2 linked regions of the Homo sapiens genome follow. The main gene of each other region encodes a partner of the protein of the gene in region 2 in a complex. Each region holds a gene or a part of one and is shown on either strand. Other genes may lie near its edges.

Region 1 (8,339 bases), on a different chromosome or scaffold from region 2:
TGTCTTTTGACTTGACCCTTTTTGCCTTCTTCCAGACTTTTGAAGATAATATAAGAAAAAACAGGACTGTGATTAGTAACTGGATAAAATACGCACAATGGGAAGAAAGCCTAAAGGAGATTCAAAGGTAAAATTACTGAGAGTGTAGTTTTGTATATAATGATTCATAGATTAACAGATACCAAAAAGAAAAGAAGAAAAAGTTAAAGCACAGGTAAAAGATTGTGCCTCGGGTAGAAATTTTCAACTTTGGTTCCATGGAACCCTAGGGTTCCCTTGAGGGCCTCAGGAGTACTGGGGTAGAATAGTCCTGGGGAGGGTGGCAGAAGAGGCTTTAGAGATAGATCTTGTCAGTTGTAGCTAAAGAAGCACAATTTCATTTGCTTTGTATATATTGAGATTTTTACAAATTTCAGCTAAACAATGGCCAAAAAAAATAAAACCAATGGCCAAAAAAAATAAAAATTGCAATCTGGCCCTTCCTGTGGTCTAGCTTTCTGCATTCTCCCCGCATACCTCCTTCCCCCACTGTGCCTGTGTATGTGCCACTCCCTGAATATATCATGTCTCCTTATCGTGAGGCTTGACTGTTCTCCTTGCCTGGAATGAGCACCCCCTCCTCACCAAACTTAGTTTCCTGGTAAATCGGAACGTTCCTCAAGTTCTCATTTCTACAATTACCTACTACTTAGCCTTTTCCACCAAACATTTTCATTTCTTCCTCTCTGTTTCCCGTGCAGATCTTGACTATAACATAAATCACATTGCATTATAATTGCATGCATGTCTTTTTATAAGACTTTGTAAGGTACTTGAGAGCATTATATCTTTTCATTTTTTTATGCCCAGAACTTGGCTCATGGTAGACACCTAATAAAACATCAGTGCATTCCAGATAGTTTGAAATAACTGCTACATGTGTTGAATGCTCTATTTTTGATGCCCTGCAAATCTTGCTTCTTAAGGGCTCGATCCATATACGAGCGTGCTTTAGATGTAGACTACCGAAATATTACACTCTGGCTGAAATACGCAGAAATGGAAATGAAGAATCGCCAAGTCAACCATGCTCGAAATATCTGGGACCGGGCCATAACAACGCTGCCTCGAGTTAATCAGTTCTGGTAAGTTTCTGATCTAACAAAACAGCCTTTTATAGACTAGCAAAGTTCCACATCTTCTGTATTTATTTTATTTACATGATGATAGTTTAATTTGATATCCTACTTTTTCTTCAGACATAAATGCTGTTATGTCCCATAGTCTATTAAGTCATAATCGTAATGTTCTATAGCTATGTAATCAAAACTAAAATTTTGATTGCAATCTTTTATTCATAAGCTTCTTGTTGAACTAGGCAACTTTTAAGAAAAAAAAATCTTTTTTTCCAATGGTTCATCCTTTTTCAGATTTACATACAAATGACAAAACATGTTTGATTTAACCTTTAAGAAAGGTAAAATCTTCAATCTTCTTCCCATTCAACAATGGAAGAACTAAACCACAGCAGATATTTTCGGGTGATTTTGTTACAGGTACAAGTACACGTACATGGAGGAAATGTTGGGAAACGTTGCCGGTGCCCGGCAGGTGTTTGAGCGCTGGATGGAGTGGCAGCCTGAGGAGCAAGCCTGGCACTCCTACATCAACTTTGAGCTGAGATACAAAGAGGTGGATCGGGCCCGCACCATTTATGAGCGATATATCCTTTGGACGAGATCTGTATGGTGCCATGATTGTCCTGGATGCTGCTGCTGCTCCTGTAGAGATGTCTCATGATCAGGACACACAGTCATTAATGTCAGGCTCAAAGTCAAGAATGCCAGTTTATCAGCTTCCCTATGTTTTGTAGGGAAAGAGATTGGTCAGAATGAAAATTTGTATTCTGGGTAACTAGTCTTTTCTAGTGAGAGTTTGGGTTTATTTTATTGTAATGCTAAAAGCTAATGTTTCCTTGTGGAAAATGATATTCCTGGGGGATTGTTTCCAGGAACTCAAGGGGATACCAAAATCGGTGATGCTTAAGTCCCTCATATAAAATGATGTAGTATTTGCATGTAACCTATGCATAGCCTCCCATATAATTCAAATAATCTCTAGATTACTTATACCTAATGCAATGTAAATGTTATATAAATAATTGTTATTCTGTATATTTTAAGGAATAATAAGCAAAAAAACGACATGTTCAATACAGAAGCACTTTTTTCTCACGAATACTTTATCTCAGGTTGGTTGAATCCACAGATATGGAACCCATGGCTGGAGGACTAACTGTACTAAGGTCCTGGCTGCCATTGCCAGTCCTGTTTTTCTAAGGTTTGTGTTGGTCATTACTACCTTACTGGAGTTCATCCAAGGTTTACTGTTTACTAGCTGTGTGGCTCCAGAGAGTCATTTAACTCCTTTGAGAGTTGGTGTCCTCTTCTTAAAAACAAGAATAAAAACACCTTTGTTGGGCTGTTGCGAAGATTAAATGATACACATGAAAGCACTTTTAGAAACTGAAGTACAGTCATTCCTCACTATTTGCAGATTCCATGTTTGCAAAATCACGTATTTGCTAAAATTTATTTGTAACCCCCAAAATCAGTAATTGTGGCACTTTCACAGTCATTTGTGGACATGCACAGAGCATGAAGTCCAACAAGGTGAGGCTTGCCTTCTGGTCTTAACCTCATATAACCATGCCTAGAGCTTGGAGACAGGAAGGGCCAGTGCCATGTAGTGCAAGGAGCTGTGGCTCTGGGGCCAGTCGGGGAGTTTGAATCCCTGTCAGTGGGGCAGCCTCAGTCCAGTCACTTAACATTTCTGAACCACTTTTCTTACAAAATAATGAAGATAGAATCTGCCAGGATGAGTTCTTTTTAGGATTTAAGATGATGATGAATGTGAGATTGTATATATACACGTTTCTCCTAGGAGCAGTGGTTCAGTACTCAATAATTAAGTGTTCGCATTGACTAAATAGAACATAACTACCAGAAATAATGAGAGTCAACTTTATTATGCAGTATTAAGATCTTTTTATTTTTTTACTCTTCTCTGTTGAGGTGACAATGTTAAGATCTTAATTATGTCTACTAATTTTAATATTATTAGTTTGACGAAAGCTTTTATAGCACTTGCTACGTGCCAGGCAGTATTCTAAGTACTTTACAGATATTGTTGTTTAATCCTCATAACATCCTTGCAGTGTAGGAACTTCTCTGTCCTACAGATGAGGGAGCTGAGGCATGAGAGATTAAGTAGCTTGACTGGGTTCTCACAGGTGCTGATGGAAATAGAATGTGAACCTAGTAGAGCAGCTTCAGAACTGATGCTCTTCTTTGCCATATTGGAATATATTACTACTTTGGAAATTAATGATTTATTCAAGGAAGATAGATTAAAATGACAATTCAAAACTTTCTGCTTTGACTCTAGTTAACAGTTTTCTTTTTATAGCATGTTTTTTTCTTAATTATTAGTTCAAGTATTCATATTTTAATATAATTGGTGCTATTTAATGACCAGACCATTATTGACCGCTTACGGTGCCATGTTCTTTTGGCTAGAAACTGTGCTAAGGGCTTTACATACATTTTCTCATTTAAAGCTGGCAGTAATCCAGTGAGGCTGGCATTATTTTTCCCTGTTTACAAATGAAACAGCTGAGACTTAGACGTCTAAGTTCAGTGACTTATCCAAGATCACATGGTTGGTAACCTGGGTTGAGATTTTTCTTTGCTTCCAACTCGAGTTTATACCCACCACTAAAATCTTAACTAAGCACTGGAGGAAAATAGAGATGAACAGGCGTGGCCCTGCTCTCACAGAAGCCACTGTTTAATTCTACACTTTTGTATGTGTTTTGTTCCCCTAGAGTTGTAGTTTGAATTTTTGGAGTTTCCAGGCTTTGGTATGGTTTTGGTGTTTACTTACTTACTATTTTTTTAAGCCATGCTGTTTTGCCTGGGATTTCCTTAATTCCCTTGCACTTGTCCTCGTGCACCCTGATGTTAAGAACTGGATCAAGTATGCCCGCTTTGAAGAAAAACATGCTTATTTTGCCCATGCACGGAAAGTGTATGAGAGAGCTGTGGAATTCTTTGGAGATGAACATATGGATGAGCACCTTTATGTTGCCTTTGCCAAGTTTGAAGAAAATCAGAAAGAGGTAAGTATACCTAACTTCATTATACTGTAAAACAGCTTAGCAAAGATTACATTTTGTGCATGGTGAGTTCATTTCCATTTTTTCTTACTGACATATCCCTGGAAAGATGTTTTCAAAATACAAAAACACAGCTTCTCACAGAGAACAGCATATATATGTGACTAAGCTACAGATGGGAGCTGATTATAGATTGTATTATAACTGTCTTAATTTTATTGTGCTTTGTTTGAAAATTAAGCCTTTTAGTCTGAATGCCCGTAAACTGAGAACTAGTCTTTTGGCATCCTAAGTAAAGGACTTAACCGATAATAAATATGGGAAACAAAAAGCTTAAAGCCCTAGAACAGAAAACATTTAGAATGGAAACAGAGATTGCCCTACAAATAAGAGAGTTCTTTTTTTCCCTTGTACCTATGAAAATAGCTCAAATATTGAGAAGATGAGGCAGAAGGATCACTTGAGGCCAGGAGTTTGAGACCAGCCTGGGCAACATAGTGAGACCCTGTCTCTAAAAAAAAAAATTGAGTGGGCATAGTGGTGCACACCTACAGTCCCAGCTACTTGGGAAGCTGAGGCAGGAGTATCACTTGAGCCTAGGAGTTTGAGACTACAATGAGCTATGTTCGTGCCATTGCACTCTAGCCTGGGTGACAGAGCAGGACCCCATTTCTTAAAAAAAAAGGGAGTTCAAATAATACAGAATTGAGATCCATCCAAATACAGGTTTGAGCATTCCCAGTCTGAAAATCCAAAACTCAAAATGTGAAACTTGTTGAGTGCTGACATGACACTCGAAGGAAATGTTCATTGGAACATTTCAGACTTCGGGTTTTTGGATTAGGGATGCTGAACCAGTAAGTATAATGCAAATATTCCCAAACTGGGGAAACATCCCAAATCCAAAACACTTCTGATACCAAATGCTTCAGACAAGAGATACTCAACCTATATAAGGTCTTGCACGGACCATGCTAGGGAGTTCAGATTCTGTTCGGGCCAGTGGGAAGCATTGAAAGGTTTTAAGCGGGACAGTGATTGGATATGATTTATATTTTAAGGAGAGCCTCTGGCTAATTCATGGAGAATGTATGAGGGTAGATGGCAAAAGTGGAACCAGGGGAGACCAGTGGGGAGACTTTTGAAGTGGGCCAGGTGAACAGTGGAGTTTGATGGCTGGGGGCTGGGGAGAAGCAAATGGCTGTGTGGAAGAGATTGAAATGGTAGGGCATGTTGCAAGAGTGAATATGGAGTATGAGGAAAAAAGAGGAATTGAGGATCACCTGAAGGTTTTGGCTTGAGCAAGTGACTGTAGGTTAGGCCTTGCCTACTAAAATTGGGAAGATGGGGAGAGTCCCAGTTTGAGTGGGGAGGAAACAGAAGCTCAGTTTTGGACCTGTTTGAGATGTGCAGTAGACATCCAGTTGGCAGTGTTAGGTAGACAGTATTAAATATGGAGCTCAAAGCAGAGTACCGGTCCATCCTGACAGAGATAACCTTCAACAAGAGGGAGAAAAGCATCTTACTCTGGATATTATGAGGCCTCAAAATCTAACTTATAAGTAATATTTTGTTATATTTACTCTCCTAGTTGTGACTGGCATGAGAATATTGTGTTATAGAAGGTAATCATCCTGTCTGCATTTAGTTTGAAAGGGTACGAGTGATTTACAAGTATGCCCTGGACAGAATTTCAAAACAAGATGCCCAAGAACTCTTTAAAAATTATACCATCTTTGAGAAGAAGTTTGGTGATAGGCGGGGTATTGAAGATATCATTGTGAGCAAACGGAGATTCCAGTACGAAGAAGAAGTGAAGGTGAGCACTGGTGTGGATGGTCAACTCTGCAGATAACCCAAGATGTGCTCATCAATACTAGCAACACTAAAATGAATAATAGCAAGTAGCACTACTAGTGATTACTCTCGTGATGATGTGCCCGTGATCCAATTGGCAGCTATTTCAGACAAGTAGGAATAAACAAGGCTGATAGAAAAGGCAAGCAAACAACACTTGGATTTGCTCTGCCACTTACATGTTGTAAGTCGTTTTGTTGATTGTTGACTGTATGTAGAACTGGAGCAAAAGAAATGTGGAATCCATTCGAGCTCATTGTTGGAAGAAGGTGGAAGAGTCAGAGATTGGTCCAAAAACCTGTTTTGCACATCACCTTTGAGCTTAACTGCCTGAACAAAAGATGTATGCTAGACAGGGTTCCATCGGCATCTCTTTTTCTGTAATGTACTATTTTGATTTCAATTCAAAGAGAGTGTCATTTTCCTTCAGTATTCTGTTGTGTATTTAAAAATACTCTTCCTTAGTCAAGTTAATTAAGATACCTCCAAGCAAAGGACTAAGTCTGTTATTAAATGTGGTGGTAGGTTAGCAAGATATGTTAAAGATGAATTGCTATTAATTGGAAAGGCAAGTTTAACAATTGTGAGCATGATACGATTCTGTTGTTACAGACATAATGATACATAGTCACATATTTAAGCAAATGCATTGGCAAGAATAGGCATCTAATTATTGACTGTCGTGAGAGTGATGGCTATAGATGAAGGAGTCCTTGCTGTGGGACACCTGGCCAGTAATCTATCCTCTGTATTCCTGTTTCTTTTCTATTTATGCAGTCTCAGGGATGGTGTTTTTAAAATGAAAGAACATGTAACATTTAGAAGAAAAGGTGCTAAAATATAGAAAGTCAGCCTGATGCCTTTTTTCAGCTTGCTTAACCTGGCAAGTGCAGCTCTTGGTTTTGTTTTTTATTTATTAAACTGGTTGTCTTTCTAGGCGAATCCACACAATTATGATGCATGGTTTGATTACTTGCGCTTGGTAGAAAGTGACGCAGAAGCTGAAGCCGTGAGAGAAGTCTATGAAAGGGCCATTGCCAATGTCCCACCCATTCAGGAGAAGAGGCACTGGAAGCGCTACATTTATCTTTGGATCAACTATGCACTCTATGAAGAATTGGAGGCAAAGGTGAAAAAACAGAATTATGTGTCAGCTGATAATGGTTTCCTGTCTTCTGTATTCACAGCTCACCTATTGTGGATGTTTGTAATTCTTGAAAGAAGGAAATTTAGTTTTAAATTTTTATAGGCTTCTGTTCATCCATACAGTTATATATTCGCTCTGCAACATTTTAAACCCTCTGTGCTTGTTGTGGCCACACGTGAGGGGCTTTTTTAACTTTGGTTTGATTTTTACTTGAGGCACAACAAGATATCACTTGGAGCTTGAAAGAGAACAGTGAACCAGCCCTTAATTTAGTGAAATATAGTTTCCTGGATTTGCTCATTAATAGGAGTAATTCTGGCTAGATTATGCATTTTTGCTTTTAGCAAAAATCAAGTGGCATTTTCAGAAATCATTTGTATTAACCTTCTGGGTTTGATCTGAGACTATGAAACATCTTTGTTTCTTTCTGCCATCAGGCAAAACGGCTTTCTACAAAGAAGGGCTTAGAAGTTTGGTGGCTATCTTGTTGGTGATTCTTAAACTGAAGTTTCATGGCCGTTCATACTTTAGATCATAAATCAGGGTTTGCAAGTAACAACTTGTGAAACATGCTGTTTTGGGGGTGTACATTTTTACCAATATCAGTAAAATTAGTAACTAGTAAAATGAGTGTTAGCAGCAGACTTCAATATTTTGTGAAAATTTCTTATCCTAATACAGGATCCTGAGAGGACAAGACAGGTGTATCAAGCCTCTTTGGAACTAATTCCTCACAAAAAGGTATGTTTGCTCTAAAGTGTTCCATTTCAAACAGGTCAGAATCCTCTTCTGTTACTTGTGAAGTAATTCAGTGAAATAATATTGATTGATAAAATGCTTCCCTGTCCCACCATGGACAACATAAATAAGACTGAGATATGCTCCTTGCCTCTGAAAACAGCTCACAGACTAGGTTGGAGGACAACCTGCATTGACAAACAAATAATATAAATTCAGAGAAGGCTAGGTAATGTGAATAGTCTGAGTGGAAGGAGAAAGACATCCATGCAGAGAGCACACAACGTGTGCGGGGGACACACAGGCGGGTTTGTTGGTAACAGTGAGTGTGTGCATGCACAGATGAATGTGCCCCTTGTGTAGATGGTTGAGATGTTACCTCCGCCTTGTTTCCCAGCACGAGAAACAAAACGTGTTTCCTTCTGTAGAAGTGTTGACTGA
Region 2 (9,251 bases):
GTGAGCGCCAAGTCCTGAGAAGGGGCACAGAACTCCCTGGAGGGTGGAGATGGAGCACCTGCCCCCCATGGCAGGGTACACTCTCCCCACAGCCTTCCTCCCCACCATCCCGTGGGGACTCTCGGGATTTAAGCACTCGTCTCTCTGGGAGGCCCAGACCCCACTCCATTTATAGGCACATCTCCTTCATTTCCTAGGTCACTGCCCCTTTGTTTACAGCTCCTGCCTCCTCCCTTGACCACAGCCTGGTTTACAAATTCCATCAGCTCCCAGCCCCACCTGCCAAAGTCCCAGGTTTACAAGCCACGCTTACTTGCTGTGTCTGCGTGGAATTCTCTCCTCTGTCCCCTCCAGTCTCCTCATTGGAGTGACCTGAAGGTGTGGCTTCCTCCACTTTTTCTCAGTATTACTTTGCCTTAGTTTTCCCCAAGAGGGAAGGCTGGAACTCTTAACTCTGTACCCCTTGATAGTTATTTAATTCTGTTTCTCCTAGTGGTTCACAATTGAACTGAATTGAGATGGTGTCGGGTGGCTAAGGAGACACCTCACCTCTCCTTCCCCATTGTGCCGCCTTTATCAATTGCCTGTTTTGTTTTGTTTGTTTTTTAACTTTCCATAATAAAATGGAGTTCTCTTCAACTCGTCTGCTTCTCCTTCTTTGGGAAAAAAAAAGGGTATGTGAGGGGAGGCTCTGGTGGCTGGGGGAGAGGAAAATGATGGGGGATGAACCAGGAACTCGGCACTGACATGTCAAAAGGGGTCTGGGAAGCTGCACGTGGGTTTCACGCAGGACAAGCAGGTGACATGAGAAAGGGCAGTTGAAGTGTCCACTAGACTGGAAGTGCCATGAGGGCTGACTACATCAGCTGGATTCACTGCAATATCCTGTACCTGTCAACTAGTAGACACGGAATTATTTCTAGAATGAATGACAACAAATGAATGAATAGAAGAAAAGGGTTAAAATATTACAGAGGACACTTTGAGTTGAAGGGTTCTAGTATTCAGAAGCCTGCTGCCATGAAGGCAGCTAGGTAGTGTATGACACAACCCATGTGGCTAATCCAGGGATACTTACTTAAAGAGCTGGGGCTACGAATACTAAATCTGAAATTGCTGCAAAATGAAGTAAGTATGTACAAGAGTCAGTTTCCTGGAAAAGGTTCCCCTCTGATAGACAATGGATTTTATATCGTTAAAGGCCTAAAGGCCGGGCACGGTGGCTCACGCCTGTGATCCCAGCACTTTGGGAGGCCGAGGCAGGCGGATCATAAGGTCAGGAGATTGAGACCATCCTGGCTAACACGGTGAAACCCCGTCTCTACTAAAAATACAAAAAATTAGCGGGGCATAGTGGTGGGCACCTGTAGTCCCAGCTACTCGGGAGGCTGAGGCAGGAGAATGGCATGAACCCGGGAGGTGGAGCTTGCAGTGAGCTGAGATTGCGCCATTACACTCCAGCCTGGGCAGCAGAGTGAGACTCCATCTCAAAAAAAAAAAAAAAGGTTTAAAAACCATCTTGATAGTGCATGGCTTTGGTGCCCATGTAGTTGATATTTGGAATTTTCCCATTTCAAAGAATATCTTATACAAATGTGGAACATCAATATTTTACTCATCAGGAAAATTTGTTTGTTTGTTGTTAGCTCTCCAGGCTAACAAAGATATGGTTGAATAGTTATAGTCCTTCTACCACTACAAGTTGCTCCTCTCAGACTGGTCAGAGGAGGCCCCACACCTTTACTATAAAACAAAATATATGAGACAAATTGAACTTAAGCATACGCCAAAGGTTTTCAATTTACTAGCAAGAGAACAAGCCAGGTGTCAAAAGACTCAGCCAGTTCAGAGAAGGTCTGGGTAGGGAAGGAAACAGAATGATTATATTAGTAGCCTGTTAGGTAAAGGTCTTAAAAAGTTTCCAGTTGTGACCCAGGAAAACAGAGTTAGGAAGCTCCGAGGTGCCAGGGGTGCTCACAGTCCATCTCAGAAACAGAAAACAATGCATTCAAGAGGTCAGGCCAGGTGTGGTGGCTCATGCCTGTAATCCTAACACTTTGGGATGCCAAGGCGGGTGGACTGCCTCATCTGAGGAGTTTGAGACCAGCCTGGGCAACATGATGAAACCCCGTCTCTACTAAAATACAAAAAATTAGCTGGACGTGGTGGCACGCACCTGTAGTCCCGCCTACTCAGGAGGCTGAGGCAGGAGAATTGCTTGAACCCAGGAGGTGGAGGCTGCAGTGAGCCAAGATCACGCCACTGCATTCCAGCCTGGGCGACAGAGTGAGACTCCGAGACTCCCTTTCCAAAAAAAAAAAAAAAAAAGTCAGTGATGTAGATCCACTTGTGGCTATTAATAAGAACAATGTTTCATTTCCTAACAGTAGTGCCTGGTAACTGCAATTAATCACAAAAGTATGATGCAGGATCAAACAAATCAGACAGCAGAGCATCGAGTAACAAATTCAGCTTTTTGTTTTGTTTGTTTTTTTTTTTTGAGCATAGTCTTGGTCTGTTGCCTAGGTTGGAGTGCCTGACCTCGGCTCACTGCAACCTCTGGCTCCTGGGCTCAAGAGATTCTCCTGTCTCAGGCCCAGTGCGGTGGCTCACGCCTGTAATCCCAGCACTTTGGGAGGCCGAGACGGGCGGATCATGAGGTCAGGAGTTTGAGACCAGCCTGACCAACATGGTAAAACCCCATCTGTATTAAAAATACAAAAACTAGCTGGGCGTGATGGCATGTGCTTGTCACACTTGTAATTCCAGCTACTCAGGAGGCTGAGGCAGGAGAATCACTTGAACCTGGGAGGCGGAAGTTGCAGTGAGCCGAGATCGTGCCATTGCACTCCAGTCTGGGCAACAGAGCGAGACTCTGTCTCCAAAAAAAAAAAAAAAAATTCTCCTGTCTCAGTCTCCAGAGTAGCTGGGACTACAGGTGCACACCTCCACACCTGGCTAATTTTTTGTAGAGATGGTGGGGTCTCACCCTGTTGCCCAGGCTGGTCTCAAACCCCTGGTCTCAAGATATCCTCCTGCCTCAGCCTCCCAAAGTGCTGGGATTACAGCAAGAGCCACTGCACCTGGCCTTGCTTACTTTTAAATAAGCAGCCACCAGTGATTTTCTCAAGCTGTTAAGCAAAAATGCAGAACACAGTTTGCCTGTTCCTTAGTTTGGAGATTTTGTCTTTAACAACTTTCCCCAGTTCCCCAGTTTCTTCCTGCCTAGAGGTCTTCCCTTATACCTGACCTGTCTTCACTCCTGCTGCAGGCAAACCAGTCCTAGCAACGGTCACTTTTTTGTTTGTTTGAGACAGAGACTTCCTCTGTTGCTCAGGCTGGAGTGCCGTGGTGGGATCTCGGCTCACTGCAAACTCTGCTTCCCATGTTCAAATGATTCTCCTGCCTCAGCCTCCCGAGTGGCTGGGACTACAGGCGCACACCACCACGCCAGGCTAATTTTTATATTTTTAGTAGAGACAGGGTTTCGCCATCTTGGCCAGGCTGGTCTCGAACTCCTGACCTCAGATAATCCGCCCGCCTTGGCCTCCCAAAGTGCTGGGATTACAGGCATGAGCCACCGCGCCCGGCCAACAATGCTAATATGTTTTATGAGCATGGACCCGATCTTCCAATCTGAAATAGAATTTCATTCCTCCCTTACTTTGTATAGTTTTTGGCTCTATAAAATTTCCATACTTTCTTTATTATGTATCCTGTCCCTCCCCCACCGCAAAATGTAAATTTGGTAAGGAACTTTTGATTTGTCCTCTGCTATATCCCAGGGACGGAAAGCAATGAGCACACATTAGGCATCCATTAAATTAATTTCACTTGTTGAATGAATGCGTGAGCGAAGCACTCACAGACTGACCATCAGGGGGCGTCAGAGAAACTGGACAGAGGCGAAATGAAGAAAAAAGAATTACCCCGAGTTTTCAGGTATGGTTCCGCGAGGTTTGAACTCGCTCGGCCACCGTAGTGCTTAGAGGCCGAAAAAGTACAGCCCCTTCCGGGCTCCGCGGTACGGGAAGACAGCTTTGGGATGTCGGAAGATCCTAGAGGTCCCAAGGTAGCTGACTTGCGAAGCTGAGGCTCCAGCCGAGGGCTCCAGGCCTCTGACCGGCCCAGCAGTGAGCGCGGCTGCCCGACGCTTCAGGGCCGGGAGCAGGGAGCGTGAGTCGCCATGGCGACGCCGGCGGGTCTGGAGCGCTGGGTTCAGGACGAGCTGCACTCGGTGTTGGGGCTGAGCGAGCGGCACGTCGCCCAGTTTCTGATCGGTACCGCACAGCGCTGCACCTCTGCCGAGGAGTTCGTGCAGCGCCTACGAGACACTGATACCTTGGATCTCAGTGGGCCGGCCCGGGACTTCGCCCTGAGACTCTGGAACAAGGTGTCGGCAGGGGTGGGGAGGGGCCCTGTGATTTGTCCCGGTGAGGCTGGCCTAACGGTCCATCGAGAAGTTAAGAAAGCTCAGTTCACAAGCACTTATTCTTTGTCCGTTGTCGCGTAGGTACTGTGCTAGCTGCTGGACGCCCAGCTCAGTGGAGAAGATTGAGGAGGGCTTAGGTGTGTCGGGTTAAGCGCAATAGAACGGTGTTTCTCGAACTCTTAACATGCATCCAAGGTTCTTGTTAAAATGCAGATTGCGATTCAGTAGGGATCTTAGTTTCTGCATTTCTTTCTTTCTTTTTTTTTTTTTTGAGAGACACAGTCTCGCTCGCCCCGTCGCCCAGGCTGGAGTGCGGTCGTAAGATCACGGCTCACTACAGCGTCGACCTCCCTGGTTGAAGCGACCCTCCCACCTCATCTTCCCCGGTAGCTGGGACTACGGGCGCGCGCCACCACCCCCGGCTAATATCTTTTATTTTTATTTTTATTTTTAGAGATGAGGCCTTGGTGTGTTGCGCAGGCTGGTCTCTAACTCCTCAGCTCAAGCAATCCTCTCTCAGCCCCCTCAGAGTGCTGAGATTACAGGCGTGAGCCACCATGCCCGGCCCCCCTCATCTTCTGAACTTCCTTTCAGTCGTTTAATTAACAGAGGGGGCCGGGTGCAGTGGCTCACACCTGTAATCCCAGCACCCCGGGAGGCTGAGGCAGGAGGATTACTTGAGCCCAGGAGTTCGAGACCAGCCTGGGCAACATGGCGAAACCTTCGTCCTACAAAAAAATTAAAAATTAGTTGAGCGTGGTAGTGTGCACCTGTGTTTCTAGCTACTTAGGAGCCTGAGGTGGGAGGATCCCTTGAGCCCAAGAGGGACAGAGTGAAACCCTGTCTGTAAAAAAAAATAAAAAACCCCATTCAGGATGATGAAGATGGGGTGAAGCCATGAGGAAGAAAGAGAATGAATGCTGGTTAGCTGGTTTAAAACTAAGTAATTGTGCCCGGGTGTGGTGGCTCATGCCTGTAATCCCAGCACTTTGGGAGGCTGAGGTGAGTGGATCATGAGGTCAGGAGTTTGAGACCAGCCTGGCCAACATGGTGAAACCTCATCTCTACTAAAAATACAAAAATAGTCGGGCGTGGTGGCATGTGCCTGTAATCTCAGCTACTTGGGAGGCTGAGGCAGGAGAATTGCTTGAACCTGGGAGGCGGAGGTTGAAGTGAGCCGAGATCACGCCATTGCCTGACAGTGGGGCCGGGCCGCGGGGGCAGGAAAGACTAAGTAATTGCTTAAATTAGGAACAGAGCTAAGTGGGAGGGCAGAGATCAGGAGTTGCTCAGACCTCCTTATCTTCCCCTCTACTGACAGGTACCACGAAAGGCAGTGGTAGAAAAGCCAGCTCGGGCAGCAGAGCGAGAGGCCCGGGCCCTGCTGGAGAAGAACCGATCTTATAGGTTACTGGAAGACAGTGAAGAGAGCAGTGAGGAGACTGTGAGTAGGGCTGGAAGCAGCCTCCAGAAGAAACGTAAAAAGCGGAAACACCTCAGGAAGAAGCGTGAGGAAGAAGAGGAGGAAGAGGCTTCTGAGAAAGGGAAGAAGAAAACAGGGTAAGTCAGAAGCAGGGTGAGAGAGGATGGGGCAGGCTGAAGTGTTCTCTATGCCCTTATTTAATCCCCTGGATGGGCTGCAGGGGGAGTAAACAGCAGACAGAGAAGCCAGAGTCGGAAGATGAGTGGGAACGGACAGAGCGTGAACGCCTTCAGGACCTGGAGGAGCGTGATGCCTTTGCTGAGCGGGTTCGACAGCGGGACAAGGATCGGACTCGAAATGTCCTGGAACGGTCAGACAAGAAGGTGAATAGGAGCAGCATGTTCTGTAAATCCCCAAGATCCCAGGGTGAAATCTGAGGTTGGCTGTGAGTGCAGAGATAGTGATCTCTGGGAAGACAAGGGGCTGTCTCTAGTGAGATGTTCACCTCTGTGGTGAGAGAAGCCCTGTGCATCCTGTGGCTAAGACAACTGTCTGCTGTACCTGCAATCAGAGAGATTCCTCACTGAGAGGGGACATTTTTTGTGTTAGGGCGCATCTGAATGATCCTTGTGATTCTAGAGGGGAGCAGCTGTCAGTGTGGGGGCTCTTTGGCCTCACACCCCTCCATTCTTGTTTTTTCTTCTAGGCTTATGAAGAGGCTCAGAAGCGCCTCAAGATGGCCGAGGAAGACCGGAAGGCCATGGTGAGTCCCAGGGCCTAGGGAGCCAAGATCAGAAGACAAAAGGAAAGACTTTCTGATAGAGTGTATAGGGAGAGAGGATACAGAGGAAGCACAGTGTGGATGCTGATGGGGTGGTCAGGTTTCTAGAAGAGGGGCTTGGTTGTTAGGAGCCAGCTGAGGATAGACTTATGTTGTTGAGGGAAGGATCCTTCTTAAGTTGTAGGGGGAAGGAGGCTACCCATAAGTCCTCCTTGACTCTTAACTTTAGGATCAAATATACTCTATTAGTGAATGAAATTGTGAGCTTTCCCTATTCCTGAGTCCTAATGAGATATGAGGCAGCTGGAATGTTGTCAAGAAGGTTGCTGGAGGGCAAGGGCAGGGCAGCAGTCCCACTGTACAGGGATGTGCTGACCATTCAGCTTAGGCACACCATCTCCAAATACCTTCCCACCACCTAATTCCTGCACCCCTTATGTGGCTTTGTGATCTCCCTGTGTCTTCTCACTGGACAGGGACAGAGCCCTTGTAATTCATAAACTGGACTTTTTATGGTGTGAAACTAGGTAGGGTAAGCTGTTTTCCAAAGGCCTGGTCTTGTCAAGTAAAGTCACACTTAGATTCCCCAATACCCCAATAGAATTTTGAGACTCTTGAAGTTCCTTTTTTTTTTTTTTTTTTTTTTTAAACCTTTTTTCTTTTTTTTGAAACGGGGTCTTGCCCTGTCACCGAGGCTGGAGTGCAATGATGCGATCTCGGCTCACTGCAACCTCCGCCTCCTGAGTAGCTGGGATTACAGGCGCACACCACCACGCCTGGCTAATTTTTTGTACCTTTAGTAGAGACGGGGTTTCACCATGTTGGCCAGGGTGGTCTCGAACCCCTGACCTTGTGATCCACCTGCTTTGGCCTCCCAGAGAGCTGGAATTACAGGCGTGAGCCACCATGCCCAGCCTTCTTTTTATTTGTTTTGTTTTATTTTTTATTTTTATTTATTTATTTTTGAGATGGAGTCTCACTCTGTTGCCAGGCTGGAGTGTGGTGGTGCGATCTCAGCTCACTACAACCTGTGCCTCCCTGGTGGAGGAATCAAGCGATTCTCCTGCCTCAGCCTCCTGAGTAGCTGGGACTACAGGCCTGCAGTACCACACTCGGCTAATTTTTTGTATTTTTAGTAGAGGAGATTTCATCATGTTGGCCAGGATGGTCTTGATCTCTTGACCTTGTGATCTGCCCGCCTTGGCCTCCCAAAGTGTTGGGATTATAGGCATGAGCCACTACGCCTGGCCGTTTTTACTTTTTAAAATTCATTTATTTATTTTTTTGAAACAGAGTTTTGCACTTGTTGCTCAGGCTGAAGTGCAGTGGCGTGATCTTGGCTCACTGCAACTTCCACCTCCCGAGTTCAAGCGATTCTCCTGCCTCAGCCTCCAGAGTAGCTGGGATTACAGGCATGAGCCACCTCGCCTGGCTAATTTTGTATTTTTAGTAGAGATGGGGTTTCTCCATGTTGGTCAGGCTGGTCTTGAACTCCTGACCTCAGGTGATCCACCTGCCTCGGCCTCCCAAAGTGCTGGGATTATAGGCGTGAGTCACCACGTGCCCGGCCAACTTTTGGAGTTCTAAGAATGGCCTACTGGTTCCCAGGTCTCTCCTGACCAATTTATCTCATATCTCTTCCTGAAATTGACTGTGGTTAGGCTTCTGGGACATCTCAGTGCAGTTGTGGTGGTAGTGGTGTTACTGTTTTGGCCTGAATTTAATTTTTCGGGTTTTTTTTGAGACAGAATCTCATTCTGTCGCCCAGGCTGGAGTGCAGTGGCATGATCTCGGCTCACTGCAACCTCCGCCTCCCGGGTTCAAGTGATTCTCCTGCCTCAACCTCCCGAGCAGCTGGGACTACAGACATGCACTAGCATGCCTGGCTGATTTTTGTATGTTTAGTAGAGATAGGGTTTCACCATGTTGGCCAGTCTGATCTCAAACTCCTGACCTTTGGCGATCCACCCCCCTCGGTCTCCCAAAATGTTAAGATTACAGGCGTGAGCCACTGTGCCCAGCTGTAATTTTTCTTTTTCGATTACAAAAATATTTAAGCACATAGGGAAGTTGAAAGAATAGAACAAAGAACACTCATAGACACTATTCAGATTGAAAAATGGTTAATACTATGGGTAGTATTTGCATTGTAATTGTAAATGTGGTATGTTTTTTCTTTTCAGACCATTTAAAAGAGTCTTAGACATCATGGCGTTTTATCTCTAAGTACATCAGTGTGTACCTGCTAAGGATAAAGATATTGTCCTCTAAAATCAGAATGCTCTTGTCACAGTCAGGAAGTTGAACAGTAATTCTTATGTATCGACTAAGATCTCTCTACAATAAAAGATACCCTCATTACCCTCAAAATAACTTTAATGACTGCTTTTTCCTAACAAGAATGCAGTCAAGGTTCATGCATTGCATTTGGGTCTTAGATGTTAAGTTTGTTTCTCTCTCTGTCTGTCTCACCTTGCAGTGTCCTACATTCTGGATTTGCCTGATTCTTATCTTGTGGTGTTAAGTACTTCTCTGCCCTGTGCTTTCTTTGAAGCAGGAATTGGGTCTAAAGCTTATTGACACTCAGATTAAACAGTTGTGGCAGGAACACTTCT

The links. Proteins that work in one complex are often made in the same cells at the same time.
Region 1: DHX16 (region 2) and CRNKL1 share a complex: the UniProt entries of both Homo sapiens proteins name them as parts of the minor spliceosome.

Annotation. Positions count from the first base shown.
Region 1 is NC_000020.11:20,041,128-20,049,466, reverse strand, and holds part of CRNKL1 (crooked neck-like protein 1), read left to right. Parts: intron 1-35; coding exon 36-127; intron 128-965; coding exon 966-1,124; intron 1,125-1,535; coding exon 1,536-1,702; intron 1,703-1,704; exon of another isoform or gene 1,705-2,319; intron 2,320-3,940; exon of another isoform or gene 3,941-3,980; coding exon 3,981-4,159; intron 4,160-5,804; coding exon 5,805-5,975; intron 5,976-6,950; coding exon 6,951-7,142; intron 7,143-7,841; coding exon 7,842-7,901; intron 7,902-8,339. UniProt on the Homo sapiens protein: Involved in pre-mRNA splicing process. As a component of the minor spliceosome, involved in the splicing of U12-type introns in pre-mRNAs.
Region 2 is NC_000006.12:30,667,777-30,677,027, reverse strand, and holds the start of DHX16 (pre-mRNA-splicing factor ATP-dependent RNA helicase DHX16), read left to right. Parts: upstream 1-4,021; 5' UTR 4,022-4,045; coding exon of another isoform or gene 4,046-4,072; 5' UTR 4,073-4,186; coding exon 4,187-4,393; intron 4,394-5,753; coding exon 5,754-5,992; intron 5,993-6,075; coding exon 6,076-6,238; intron 6,239-6,561; coding exon 6,562-6,618; intron 6,619-9,251. UniProt on the Homo sapiens protein: Required for pre-mRNA splicing as a component of the spliceosome. Contributes to pre-mRNA splicing after spliceosome formation and prior to the first transesterification reaction.